Linked DNA regions of Homo sapiens: region 2 is linked to region 1. Evidence: fine-mapped expression QTL. Tissue or cell type: blood mononuclear cells. Region 1 holds a variant in brackets; the other region holds the start of a gene. All regions are shown on one strand. Distances are from middle to middle.

Region 1 (8,472 bases):
TCTAGATATACAATCATGTCATCTGCAAACAGGGACAATTTGGCTTCCTCTTTTCCTAATTGAATACCCTTTATTTCCTTCTCCTGCCTAATTGCCCTGGCCAGAACTTCCAACACTATGTTGAATAGGAGTGGTGAGAGAGGGCATCCCTGTCTTGTGCCAGTTTTCAAAGTGAATGCTTCCAGTTTTTGCCCATTGAGTATGATATTGGCTGTGGGTTTGTCATAGGTAGCTCTTATTATTTTGAGATACGTCCCATCAATACCTAATTTATTGAGAGTTTTTAGCAAGAAGGGTTGTTGAATTTTGTCAAAGGCCTTTACTGCATCTATTGAGATAATCATGTGGTTTTTGTCTTTGGTTCTGTTTATATGCTGGATTACATTTATTGATTTGCGTATATTGAACCAACCTTGCATCCCAGGGATGAAGCCCACTTGATCATGGTGGATAAGCTTTTTAATGTGCTGCTGGGTTCGGTTTGCCAGTATTTTATTGAGGATTTTTGCATCAATGTTCATCAAGGATATTGGTCTAAAATTCTCTTTTTTGGTTGTGTCTCTGCCCGGCTTTGGTATCAGGATGATCCTGGCCTCATAAAATGAGTTAGGGAGGATTCCCTCTTTTTCTATTGATTGGAATAGTTTCAGAAGGAATGGTACCAGTTCCTCCTTGTACCTCTGGTAGAATTCAGCTGTGAATCCATCTGGTCCTGGACTCTGTTAGGTTGGTAAGCTATTGATTGTTGCCACAATTTCAGCTCCTGTTATTGGTCTATTCAGAGATTGAATTTCTTCCTGGTTTAGTCTTCGGAGGGTGTATGTGTCGAGGAATATATCCATTTCTTCTAGATTTTCTAGTTTATTTTCATAGAGGTGTTTGTAATGTTCTCTGATGGTAGTTTGTATTTCTGTGGGATCAGTGGTGATATCCCCTTTATCGTTTTTTATTGCGTCTATTTGATTCTTCTCTCTTTTCTTCTTTATTAGTCTTGCTAGTGGTCTATCAATTTTGTTGATCCTTTCGAAAAACCAGCTCCTGGATTCATTAATTTTTTGAAGGGTTGTTTGTGTCTCTATTTCCTGCAGTTCTGCTCTGATTTTAGTTATTTCTTGCCTTCTGCTAGCTTTTGAATGTGTTTGCTCTTGCTTTTCTAGTTCTTTTAATTGTGATGTTAGGGTGTCAATTTTGGATCTTTCCTGCTTTCTCTTGTGGGTATTTAGTGCTATAAATTTCCCTCTACACACTGCTTTGAATGTGTCCCAGAGATTCTGGTATGTTGTGTCTTTGTTCTCGTTGGTTTCAAAGAACATCTTTATTTCTGCCTTCATTTTGTTATGTACCCAGTAGTAATTCAGGAGCAGGTTGTTCAGTTTCCATGTAGTTGAGTGGTTTTGAGTGGGTTTCTTAATCGTGAGTTCTAGTTTGATTGCACTGTGGTCTGAGAGACAGTTTGTTATAATTTCTGTTCTTTTACATTTGCTGAGGAGAGCTTTACTTCCCAGTATGTGGTCAATTTTGGAATAGGTGTGGTGTGGTGCTGAAAGAAATGTGTATTTTGTTGATTTGGGGTGGAGAGTTCTGTAGATGTCCATTAGGTCTGCTTGGTGCAGAGCTGAGTTCAATTCCTGGGTATCCTTCTTAACTTTCTGTCTCGTTGATCTGTCTAATGTTGACAGTGGGGTGTTAAAGTCTCCCATTATTATTGTGTGGGAGTCTAAGTCTCTTTGTAGGTCACTCAGGACTTGCTTTATGAATCTGGGTGCTCCTGTATTGGGTGCATATATATTTAGGATAGTTAGCTCTTCTTGTTGATTTGATCCCTTTACCACTATGCAATGGCCTTCTTTGTCTCTTTTGTTCTTTGTTGGTTTAAAGTCTGTTTTATCAGAGACTAGGATTGCAACCCTGCCTTTTTTTGTTTTCCATTTGCTTGGTAGATCTTCCTCCATCCTTTTGTTTTGAGCCTATCTGTGTCTCTGCACGTGAGATGGGTTTCATGAATACAGCACACTGATGGGTCTTGACTCTTTATCCAATTTGCCAGTCTGTGTCTTTTATTTGGAGCATTTATTCCATTTACATTTAAAGTTAATATTGCTTTGTGTGAATTTGATCCTGTCATTATGATGTTAGCTGGTTATTTTGCTCGTTAGTTAATGCAGTTTCTTCCTAGCCTTGATGGTCTTTACAATTTGGCATGATTTTGCAGTGGCTGTTACCGGTTGTTCCTTTCCATGTTTAGTGCTTCCTTCAGGAGCTCTTTTAGGGCAGGCCTGGTGGTGACAAAATCTCTCAACATTTGCTTTTCTGTAAAGTATTTTATTTCTCCTTCACTTATGAAGCTTAGTTTGGCTGGATATGAAATTCTGGGTTGAAAATTCTTTTCTTTAAGAATGTTGAATGTTGGCCCTCACTGTCTTCTGGCTTGTTGAGTTTCTGTGAAGGGATCAGCAGTTAGTCTCATGGGCTTCCCTTTGTGGGTATCCCGACCTTTCTCTCTGGCTTCCCTTAACATTTTTTCCTTCATTTCAACTTTGGTGAACCTGACAATTATGTGTCTTGGAGTTGCTCTTCTCGAGGAGTATCTTTGTGGTATTCTCTGTATTTCCTGAATCTGAATGCTGGCTTGCCTTGCTAGATTGGGTAAGTTCTCCTGGATAATATCCTGCAGAGCGTTTTCCAACTTGGTTCCATTCTCCCCATCACTTTCAGGTACACCAGTCAGATGTAGATTTGGTCTTTTCACATAGTCCCATATTTCTTGGAGGCTTTATTCATTTCTTTTTATTGTTTTTTCTCTAAACTTCCCTTCTCGCTTCATTTCATTCATTTCATCTTCCATCACTGATACCCTTTCTTCCATTTGATTGCATCGGCTCCTGAGGCTTCTGCATTCTTCACGTAGTTCTTGAGCCTTGGCTTTCAGCATCTTCAGCTCCTTTAAGCACTTCTCTGTATTGGTTATTCTAGTTATACATTCGTCTTAATTTTTTTCAAAGTTTTTAACTTCTTTGCCTTTGGTTTGAATTTCCTCCTGTAGCTCAGAGTAGTTTTGTCATCTGAAGCTTTCTTCTCTCAACTCATCAAAGTCATTCTCCGTCCAGCTTTGTTTCATTGCTGGTGAGGAACTGCATTCCTTTGGAGGAGGAGAGGTGCTCTGCTTTTTAGAGTTTCCAGTTTTTCCAATTTTTCTGCTCTGTTTTTTCCCCATCTTTGTGGTTTTATCTGCTTTTGGTCTTTGATGATGGTGATGTACAGATGGGTTTTTGATGTGGATGTCCTTTCTGTTTGTTAGTTTTCCTTCTGACAGACAGGACCCTCAGCTGCAGGTCTGTTGGAGTTTGCTAGAAGTCCACTCCAGACCTTGTTTGCCTGGGTACCAGCAGCGGTGGCTGCAGAATAGCAGATTTTCGTGAACCGTGAATGCTGCTGTCTGATCTTTCCTCTGGAAGTTTTGTCTCAGAGGAGTACCCGGCCGTGTGAGGTGTCAGTCTGCCCCTACTGGGGGTGTCTCCCAGTTAGGCTGCTCGGGGGTCAGGGTTCAGGGACCCACTTGAGGAGTCAGTCTGCCCGTTCTCAGATCTCCAGCTGTGTGCTGGGAGAACCACTGCTCTCTTCAAAGCTGTCAGACAGGGACATTTAAGTCTGCAGAGGTTCCTGCTGTCTTTTTGTTTGTCTGTGCCCTGCCCCCAGAGGTGGAGCCTACAGAGGCAGGCAGGCCTCCTTGAGCTGTGGTGGGCTCCACCCAGTTCGAGTTTCCTGGCTGCTTTGTTTGCCTAAGCAAGCCTGGGCAATGGCAGGCGCTCCTCCCCCAGCCTCACTGTCGCCTTGCAGTTTGATCTCAGACTGCTGTGCTAGCAATCAGC[G/A]AGACTCCATGGGCATAGGACCCTCCAAGCCAGGTGTGGGATATAATCTTCTGTTGTGCCGTTTTTTAAGCCTGTCCGAAAAGTGCAGCATTAGGGTGGGAGTGACCCAATTTTCCAGATGCCATCTGTCACCCCTTTCTTTGACTAGGAAAGGGAACTCCTTGACCCTTTGCGCTTCCCAAGTGAGGCAATGCCTCGCCCTGCTTCAGCTCGTGCACGGTGCACTGCACCCATTGTCCTGTGCCCACTCTCTGGCACTCCCTAGTGAGATGAACCCGGTACCTCAGATGGAAATGCAGAAATCACCCATCTTCTGCATCGCTCACGTTGGGAGCTGTAGACCAGAGCTGTTCCTGTTCAGTCATCTTGGCTCCATCCATCCCAAAGACCCATTTTTCTTGTTTTATCTACCTTTGGTCTTTGATGCTGGTGACCAACAGATGGGGTTTTGCTGTGGATGTCCCTTTTGTTGATGTTGATGCTATTCCTTTCTGTTTGTCAGTTTTCCTTCTAAGAGTCAGGTCCCTCAGCTGCAGGTCTGTTGGAGTTTGCTGGAGGTCCACTCCAGACCCTCTTTGCCTGGATATCACTAGGAGAGGCTGCAGCACAGCAAATATTGCAGAACAGCAAATGTTGCTGCCTGATCCTTCCTCTGGAAGCTTCATCCCAGAGGGGCACCCTCCTGTATGATGTGTCAGTTGGCCCCTACTGGGAGGTGTCTCCCAGTTTGGCTACATGCGTGTCAGGGACCCACTTGAGGAGGCAGTCTATCCATTCTCAGAGCTCAAACACCATGCTGGGAGAACCACTTCTCTCTTCAGAGCTGTCAGACAGGGATATTTAAGTCTGCAGAAGTTTCTGCTGTCTTTTGTTTAGCTATTCCCCACCCCCAGAGGTGGGGTCTACAGAGGCAGCAGGCCTTGCAGAGCTGCGGTGGGCTCTGCCCCGTTCAAGCTTCCCAGGCCACTTTGTTTACCTACTCACGCCTGAGCAATGGCGGACACCTCTCCCACTGCCAGACTGCTGCCTCACAGGTCGATCTCAGACTGCTGCTGTAGCAGTGAGCAAGGCTCTGTGGGTGTGGGTCCTGCCAAGCCAGGTGCGAGATATAATCTCTGGGTGTGCCATTTGCTAAGACTGTAGGTAAAGCACAGTATTTGTGTGAGGGTGTCCGGATTTTCTAGGTTCAGTCTGACTTGGCTTCCCTTGGCTGGGAAAGGGAAATCCCCTGACCCCTTGCACTTCCCAGGTAAGGTGATGCACCACCCTGCTTTGGCTCACCCTCCATGGGCTGCATCCACTGTCCAACCAGTCCCAGTAAGATGAACCAGGTACCTCAGTTGGAAATGCAGAAATTGCCATCTTCTGCATTGATCATGCTGGGAGCTGCAGACGGGAGCTGTTCCTATTCGGCTGTCTTGGAGCAGAATCCTGGCTTATGTTTTTTTTTCAATGGGAGCCTCCAATCACCATAAAAGATTATGTACCTTACATAGTTGTACTTGTTATACTTTTTAATTTTTATTTTTCATTTCTTTAGTAGGTACAAGTGCAGATTTCTTACATGCATATATTGCATACTGTTGGGTAGACTGGGCTTTTAGTGTACCCGTCACCTTAATAGTGATCACTGTACCCAATAGGTAAATTTTCAACCATCACCTCTCTCCCACCCTCCTATCTTTTGTAGTCTCCAATGCGTATTATTTCACTCTGTATGTCCATATGTATCAATTGTTTAGCTCTCATTTACAAGTGATGGCATGCAGTATTTGACTTTCTGTTTCTGAGTTTTTCACTTAAGATAATGGGCTTCAATACCATCAGTGTTGCTGCAAAAGACATGATTTTATGGCTGAGTAGTATTTTCTATATCCAGTTCTCCGCTGATGGACATGTATGTTTATTTCTTTTTTTGCAATTGTGAATAGGTCTGTGATAAACATGAGTGCAGGTATATTTTTGATATACTGATTTCTTTTCCTTTGGGTATATACCCAGTAATGGAATTGGATCAAATGGTAGTTCTGTTATTAGTTCTTTGAGAAATCTCCTTATTGTTTTCCGTAGAGGTTGTACTTATTTACATTTCTACCAACAGTATATAAGCATTACCTTTTCTTCACATCCTCATCAACATCTGTTTTGTTTTTTTTGACTTTTTAGTAATAGCCATTCTGACTGGTATAAGATTGTATTTTACTATTTTAATTTTTATTTCTCTGATGATTAGAAATATTGAGCATTTTTCATGTTTGTTGACTGCTTGTAGGTACTCTTTTGAAAAATGTCTGTTTGTATCCTTTGCCCGCTTTTTAATGGGGTTGTTTCTTGTTGTTTTGTTGTTAGAGTTCCTTGTAGATTCTGGATGTAAGCGCTTTGTTGGATGCATAGTTTGCAAATATATTTTCCCACTTTATAGGTTGTCTGTTTACTTTATTAATTATTTCTTTTGCTGTGCAGAAACTTTTTAGTTAAATTATCTCGTCTGTTTATTTTTATTGCATTTGCTTTTGAGGACTTGGTCATTAATTCTTTGCCTAGACCAATGTCTGGAAGGGTTTTTCCTAAGTTTTCTTCTAGGATTTCTGTGGTTTCAGGTCTTACACTTTGGTCTTTGATCCATATTGAGTTTATTTTTGTATATTTTGAGAGGTATGGGTCCAGTTTTATTATCCCATATGTGTTTATCCAATTTTACTGGCACCACTTATTTATAGGGTGTCATTTCCCCAGAATATATTTTTGTTGACTTTTTAAAAGATAAGTTGGTTGTAGGTATGGGGCTTTATTTCTGAGTTGTCTATTCTGCTCCATTGATCTATGTGTCTATGTTATGCCAGTACAATGCTGTTTTGGTTTCTATAGTTTTGTAGTATAATTTGAAAACAGGTAATGTGATGCCTCCAGCTTTGTTCTTCTTCCTTAGAATTGCTTTGGCTGTTCAGGCCCTTTTTTTGGTTCCATATTAATTTTAGGATTTTTTTTTCTAATTCTGTGAAAAATAACATTGGTAATTTGATAGGGATTGTGTTGAATCTGTAGTTTGCCTTGAACAGTATGGTCATTTTAATGATATTGCATATTCTAATTTATAAGCGTGGGGGTTTTTCATTTGTTTATGTCATCTAGGATTTTTTTCATCAGTGTTTTGTAGTTCTCCTTCTAGAAGTCTTTCAGCTTCTAGGTCAAAGATATTCCTCGGTATTTTTTTGTAGCTATTGTAAATGGGATTGTTTTCTTGATTTGGCCTTTGGCTGGCTCATTATTTGTGTATATAAACACTACTGATATTTGTACATTAATTTTGTATCCTGACGCTCACTGCTTCCTTTGTCAAATTTAAGAATTTTGGGCAGCATCTTTAGGGTTCTTCAGGAATAATATTATATCATCAGCAAACAGGGGTAACTTGACTTCCTCTTTTCCAATTTGGATGCATTTTATTTCTTTCTTCTGCCTGATTGCTCTGGCAAGAAATTCCAGTACTGTGTTGAATAAGAATAGTGAAAGTCGGCATCCTTGTATTGTTCTAGTTCTTACAGGAAATGCTTTCAACTTTCCCATATTAGATATGATGTTGTTGGGTACACATGGACACAAAGATGGGAAGAGTAGACATGGGACACTCTAAATTAGGGGAGGAAGGATGGGGAACAAGGGTTGGGAGATTACTTATTGGGTACTATGTTTGCTACTTGGGCAACAGATCATTAGAAGCCCAAACCTCAGCATCAGAAAATATACCCATATAAAAAACCTGCACAGGTACCCCTGAATCTAAAATTTTAAAAAACGAGATAGAATTATGAGATTAGGTAATGCATATTTTAGCCTTAGGATTGAGGTCTTTGCAAAAAGTAGGGAAAATGTCTTCTTACTCATTTCCTTATGCACAAAACATGTCCTCAGAAATATTTCTACTAGCATCATTAAATGTATTTTCAAATTTCTCTATTTAGGGCCCTGTGCTAGTTGCTAAGGATGTAGGTAAAACAAGTGAACAAGAAAATCCTGTTTTGAAAGGTCTTCTGATTCTAGTGGGAGAAAGAAAAAGAGTTTGATATTAATCAGCTGCCCTCTTGGAATAAGCAGAAATACTACCACATTCTTATAGATGAATGATACACAGGAGGATCTGAAGGGTTTCTATTTTTTAAAAAGTATGATGTTGGCTGTGGGTTTGTTGTATATAATCTTTATTATGTTGAAGTATATTTCTTCTATGCCTAGTTTGTTGAGGATTTTTATCATGAAGTGATGCTGAGTTTTATTGGATGCCTTTTCTGCATCTGTTGAGATGATCATATGGTTTTTGTTTCTAATTCTGTTGATGTGATATATCACACTTACTGATTTCCATATGTTAAACCATCCTTCCGCCCTTGGGATAAATTACACCTGATCGTGGTGTGGTATCTTTTTGATGTGCTGTTGGATTCCATTTTTTAGTGTTTTGTTGAGGATTCCCTGCTTATCTATGTTTTAGAATAGTTTCAAAAGAATAGGTATTAATTTTTTTTGTATGTTTGGTGTAATTTGGCTGTGAATCCTCCTGATCCTGGGATTTTTTTGTTGAGAGATTTTTTATTACTGATTTCAG
Region 2 (6,432 bases), 330 kb before region 1:
TGCTTATCCAAAGGATATGGACACCACTGGAATGTCTCTCTTTGTCCTGACACGAAAATAAAAATTAATCGGGTAATTTTAATACAGTACATTCTTCAAGAAGGTGCCAGGTCGCCGCTGTTTCCCCAAACGTTGTGTAAAACAATTTGATTTTTTCTTTTTTTTTTTTTTTTTTGAGACGGAGTTCCGTTCTTGTTGTCCAGGCTGGAGTGCACTGGTGCGATCTCGGTTCGGCGAGATCTTGGCTCACCGCAACCTCCGCCTCCCAGATTCAAGCGATTCTCCCGCCTCAGCCTCCCGAGTAGCTGGGATTACAGGCATATGCGCCACCACGCCCGGCTAATTTTGTATTTTTAGTACAGACGGGGTTTCTCCATGTTGGTCAAGCTGGTCTCGAACTCCTGACCTCTGATAATCTGCCCGCCTCGGTCTCCCAGAGTGCTGGCATTACAGGCGTGAGCCACCGCGCCCGGCAATTTGATTTTTTCGAAGGAAGAATTTTCCAATTTATCTAAGCGTTATGCCATGTCTGTTAATAAAATTGTATTAAAGTTAAATCATGAGTTTTTAATGCAGATAAATCTTTCCATAGCAAAGAGAACAGATTAGTTTCACAAAAGATATTGATCAGATGCTACATAATTTTACACATAAAGACACAAAACTATCAGTCTCCGCCCTTCTGTCAAACCATCGACTTAGAAGTGTCTATAGTTTAATTTCATGATTTTTTTAAGCAATGAAGTTGAAATTCTACTTTTCCTTAGGAGCGATACGCATATTTTACACTCAAGTGGCCAGCGTCAACTAAGGGCATTCCAGATGGTCAAAAAAGAAGTGCCTCTGCTACAACGCCTGAGATCATCATATAGTAACTTCTTCAAACCACCACGAAGTAGCAAGGCTTCAAAGCTGTCAGGAATGCTACGTTCTACAACAGCCAGATAATTAGGAAACCAGCAGATGGGAGGAGAAATCTGTCCCTATGAAACACGTTCCCATCTCAGTTTTGAAAGTGGCTTTATATAAACGCATTCATCTTCTACCCAATAACCCAAAGGTTATTGAACGCCAATAACCAAACGACTCAGGACTGCGAGATGATTCCCAAGGAGGCGAACTTGTGCGGACAGATTTCAAGTACCACGAACCATCACCAGCAGAGCGAAGGGCAGGTTTCCCTCCGACGGCTGCGATGCTCCGAGTCCCTCCTTCCCCTAGCACCCCGCCGCCCACTGAGCCCTTCCCCAAAGGTCCCCGAGTTCTGAGCGACGCACGCCCCCGACCCTAGTTACCGGGGAGAGCCGCCGAGGGCCCAAGGCGCCAGTAAGGCTCCGCGCACGCAGCCCAGCCCGAGGGGCGCCCGCCCGGGCGCTCGGTGTGGGGCCTGATGCAGAGCAGGAGGAGGAGGTCCGAGTGGGCCCCAGCGCTCTCAGGGTCTGGCGCCGGCCCCTCTGCCTCCCGCCTCTGCTGTGCCTGGCGTCCAGGGATCTTCCAAGGACTCCCCACCCCCTACCCTGCTCTCCCACGCGGGGTCATGACTTCGGGCGGCGCCAAGCCCCCAGCGTAAGGGTCCCCCCGGCTTCCCCGGGAAAGGGTCGGGGTGCAAGGCTAGGCCAGGAGTGCCTGGCGAGAGGGCCGGAGCAGGACACAGGGGGTCAGCGGCAGGGCAGGGCGCTCCCGCCGCGGTGCCTGGGGAAGGGAGCGGGGGTGGGGCTGCCGCGGGCCAAATGCGGGACACAGGCGCGGACGGGGGCGGCCGCGGATCGGGCGGACGGCCACTCTGGGAGGGGCTGGGAGGTACCGCGGCCCCCTGCGGGACGCACCTGCGCAAAGTGAGGGACCGGCCCCCCCCCCCCCCCCGCTCCGCGCGAAGCCTCACCTGCCCAGCGCCCGCTTCATTCCCGCGTCGGCTGCGCAGCGCGGCTCAGCCGCCGCCGGGCCCGTCAGGCGTAGGTTCTGCTTCAGGCGGCAGTCGGCGTCCAGCGCCGCGGCGGCCGAGCCGGAGGAGGACGAGCCCGCGGCGGCGCAGCGCTCATGCTCCAAGGCGACGGGCTCGGTCCGCTTCCTCATCCCGCGGCCGACAGGGCCAGCCGCCGACGGCGCCCGCTGGCCTGCGCCGCAGTGCCGCCGCTCACAGCCGCCGCCACCCAGAGCCCGGAGCCCGGAACCCGCCGCTCCTCACATCCCAGCCCAGGCCGCTGCGCCGGCTACGAACCAGCGGCGGGGGCCCGCCAGCCAGGCCGGCCAATCAGCGCCGGGCTCCCGCCGGCTCTGCCCTACCCCCCTCCCCCGGCCCCGCCCCGGCCACCTCCTCTCTAGTTCCAAGGAGCGCGCGCCCAGCATCCCTGGCGCCACCCGCAGCCATTTTGTGGGAGGGTGGGCGAAGCTGCAGCGGCGCGTCATCTGCAGGGCAGGGCTCTGGGCTCCATCCGCAGGCTGCAGCTGTGCTCGCCCGGGCGCTCGGTGTGAGGAGCACCCGCTCCCGGTCGTGCCCGAAAGGGGTGGCCCAGCGAGGCAGAGCCGCAGCGCTGGGCTCCTCGTGCTTCTGTGAACGGAAAACCAGAGGTAGCAAATAGCAGTTCCGTTCTCGTGATTCTTAATTCTTTTTCCACAAGGACATTACCTTTAAAAGTATGCTTTCCGGTCGTCAGTTTTTAATTTGAAGTAAATGTATATACTCAGTGTTTACTTTTGGGCCGAACATCAGGAAATGAACTGCTTGAAAAATTTACTTTTTAAAAACCTGTGTTAGATTTTAGATTTTTATAAAGCAATTAAGACTACCTGATGGGAGGAAAATCCATTTCAAAGATAAATTCGCCCTTATGAAACCCAAATTTAGTACTAATTCAACCCATCCTAGAAAGAGAAAAGGAAAGAATAAAGGGCTGTTTCACAAATTTAGTTTTATAACTTTGGCTTTCTTCAATATGGCATTAGTTTTACAGATGATCTATAACAAAGAGAGATATTTGCTTATTCCAAAGTAACGTTAGAAATTTCAGCATTTGTCACTTTGAAAACTATTGGCAATTGATAAAGGTCAATTGGAAATGCGTTTAGAAATTCAACAGCTTTTTATATTAGTTTTTTCTTTTTTTTTTTTTTTTTTTTTGAGACGGAGTCTCGCTCTCGCCCAGGCTGGAGTGCAGTGGCGCGATCTCGGCTCACTGCAAACTCCGCCTCCCAGGTTCACGCCAGTCTCCTGCCTCAGCCTCCCAAGTAGCTGGGACTACAGGCGCCGGCTACCATGCCCGGCTAATTTTTTTGTATTTTTAGTAGAGACAGGGTTTCACTGTGTAGCCAGGATGGTCTCGATCTCTCGATCCCGTGATCCGCCCGCCTCGGCCTCCCAAAGTGCTGGGATTACAGGCATGAGCCACCGCGCCCGGCTGCTTTTTAAATTAGTTTTGTAATGATACTTTGAAATTGCAAAATAATTTATTGACCATATTACTAAGTGTTACAGCCTGCATTCATAATTGTGTCAATATCTCCAGATATACTTTTTAAAAACATTATGGGCCGAGCTCAGTGGCTCATGCCTGTAATCTCAGCACTTTGGGAGGCGGAGGTGGGTGGATCATTTAAGCACAGGAGATGGAGGCCAGATCAGCCTGGCCAGCATGGTGAAACTCCGTCTCTACTAAAAATACAAAAATTAGCCGGGTGTGGTGGCACAAGCCTGGGTGACAGAGCAAGACTCTGTTTAAAAAAAAAAAAAAAAAAAAGGCTGGGCGAGGTGTCTCACGCCTGTGAGCCCAGCACTTTGGGAGGCCGAGGCGGGCGGATCACGAGGTCAGGAGATTGAGGCTATCCTGGCCAATGTAGTGAAACCCCGTCTCTACTAAAAACACAAAAATTAGCCAGGTATGGTGGCACAACCCTATAATCCCAGCTAATTGGGAGGCTGAGGCAGGAGAATCGCTTGAACTTGGGAGGCGGAGGTTGCAGTGAGCTGAGATCACACCATTGCACCCCAGTCTTGGGGACAAAAGCAAACTTCTGTCTCAAAAAAAAAAAAAAAAATTAGCTGGGCATGGTGGCGCGTGCCTGTATTCCCAGCTACTTGGGAAGCTGAGGCAGGAGAATCGCTTGAACCAGGGAGTCGGAGGTTGTGGTGAGCCGAAATTGTGCCACTGCACTCCAGCCTGGCGACAGAGGGAGACTCCTCTCAAAAACAAACAAACAAAAAAATTAGCTGGGTGTGGTGGCGCACGCCTGTAATCCCATCTACTTGGGAGGCTGAGGCAGGAGAATTGCTTGAACCCGGGATGCTGGGATTCGGAGGTTGCAGTGAGCCGAGATTGCACCACTGCACTCTAGCCTGGGTGACAGAGCAGGACTCCATCTCAAAATAAACAAACAAACATACTATGGAATGTAAATTATAAATTCTTTATAGTGATGTAGTAACACATCCTGGAGAGATTGGAAATCTAGGAAATAACTAAAACGTAAAAAAAAAAAAAGAGGTTTTGACTCTATCGCTCACTTCAATTAAAAAAACAACAACAACAAAAAAAAAACAGCCAGGCGCGGTGGCTCATGCCTGTAATCCCAGCACATTGGGAGGCCGAGGCGGGCGGATCACAAGGTCAGGAGATCATGACCATCCTGGCTAACACGGTTTCACACCCCGTCTCTCTAATAACAATATAAAAAATTAGCCGGGCATGGTGGCGGGCGCCTGTAGTCCCAGCTACTTGGGAGGCTGAAGCAGGAGAATGGCGTGAACCCGGGAGGCGGAGCTTGCAGTGAGCGGAGATCGCACCACTGCACTCCATCCTGGGCGACAGAGTGAGACTCCGACTCAAAAAAACCAAACAAACAAACCAAAAAAAAAAAAAAAAAAAAACAAGGAAGGAAGAGCTGGAGAGGAAAAATCTGTACCGTGTATTGAATCTTTCTTACAGGCACGAGGCCCTGCCCACACAGTGCTCAACTCTTGGTGGTTGAGCCCATGCTAGTGATGCCCACATTTTTATCATTGGTCCACACCTCTCCTTGACCCTTAGGCTCCTCATCATTTCTGCTCTGATTTCTGACAAGCACCACTTCAATGCTGAGCTCCCAACTCTTCTCCCACCCCCAACTCCATCCATGACCTTCTCTGGTAATTCTATTGCAGTTCCTGGGGCCACAATTCTGGGGTCATCCTTGACTTCTCCTTTCTTGTGCTATAGCATGTCTATCACCAAGCCTTGTCAGCTGTGCTTTCAAAATCTATGAGAATTTAACCATTAAATTTTACCGCCTCCATGGTCCCCACCCTGGGCCAAACTGCTGTTATCTCTCACCTCCATTATTTGAATAGCCTAACTGGTCTCCTGCCTCCACTTTGCCTCACTTCTGTCCACTTAATTCAGCTGCCACATAGGGTTTTCTTGTTGTTACAAGGTCTAATTCTGTCATTTATTTGCTCACAACACCTAAGTGGCTCCCCATCTCACTCAAAACCCAAGGCTTACAAAAGGGTTTAACATGGCCCTCCCTGACTGTAGAGCACCCGATTCTGTCGTTGATCAGGGGTGCCACTTGCAACCTGCATGGACTTAGGGTAACAACAAAGGGTGGTGAACGTGAGAATAAAAGACAAGAGACAAGAGTATGTTTGGAAGAAGGGGTCAGGGGGCACCTTGCCTCTAGTGGACAAGGGCCCTGAGCTTTACACAGCCCTCCATATTTATTAGGCAAAACAGATAGGGATAAATGGGGGGTGATTGTGGGGTAATTGTCAGTCGGCTGGTTGGTTCACAGCAGGCTTGCCAGACTGCATCGTTTGAACAATAGACACTAGATTTCTCAGTAGATAACTTCAAGGAGCCCCGTGCCAGGGAGTGAGGCCCTCAGCCAACCTTTTGGTGGCAGGCGCAGTGTGAGTTTGCTCACATCCTGCATTCGTGATAGTGATAAACAGTTTGCTATTTGATCATATAGCCTCCAGTGGAATGCTGAGTTGATCATGATCCCTTTGGCCTTTTTGGCTCCCAACATCTCTCCCTTTGTGTTTATGTATTAATTGAAAGAATGTAAGGCCAGGCTGGGCATCTCTCATTCTCTGATTGGCAGTCCGTCCGATTTTACAGACTATGAGCAGAAGACAGAGACAAAACAACATTATTCCAAGAACTACATATAAATTGTTAATGTGGTGCTTTAGATAGGTCCAAGGGTTGAGGCTTGCCAGGCGTTGCTGGAATTTGGTCCAGTCTTCTAAAGCAGGTTGAAATTTTTGAGTTTGCTTATTTAAAACAAGAATTTTGTTTTGTAATTCACCAATATCAAAGGTGATGTTGGATGTGAACGCTCCCTGTAAATGGGCTTTCACAAGGTCCCATGGATAGTCACTTTGGTTATATTCTTAGTTGTTTACACAAATATGAGTGTGGTTAAAATGACAATGCAACTGATGCTGCAACTGCAAGC

Evidence for each region. PIP is the estimated chance that this variant, and not a neighbour inherited with it, causes the effect.
Region 2: it holds the start of ABHD12, and the variant in region 1 is fine-mapped to the expression of ABHD12 in blood mononuclear cells (TOPMed, PIP 0.92).

Annotation. Positions count from the first base shown.
Region 1 is chr20:25,715,571-25,724,042 of GRCh38, forward strand. The region is part of intron 1 of LOC107985400 (a long non-coding RNA gene); the gene reads left to right. Among named protein-coding and RNA genes, the nearest start is that of ZNF337, 23 kb to the left of the region's middle. RefSeq lists enhancers at 3,367-3,882, 3,883-4,398. The variant G/A (reference allele first, on the strand shown) is at 3,870.
Region 2 is chr20:25,388,631-25,395,062 of GRCh38, forward strand. ABHD12 (abhydrolase domain containing 12, lysophospholipase) reads right to left here and starts at 2,205. Exons shown (of 13, transcript NM_001042472.3): 1 at 1,883-2,205. The coding sequence starts at 2,073. LOC105372581 (a long non-coding RNA gene) reads right to left here. Exons shown (of 3, transcript XR_937403.3): 3 at 6,020-6,093. RefSeq lists silencers at 1,295-1,454, 1,625-1,784, 1,825-1,874, 1,915-2,334.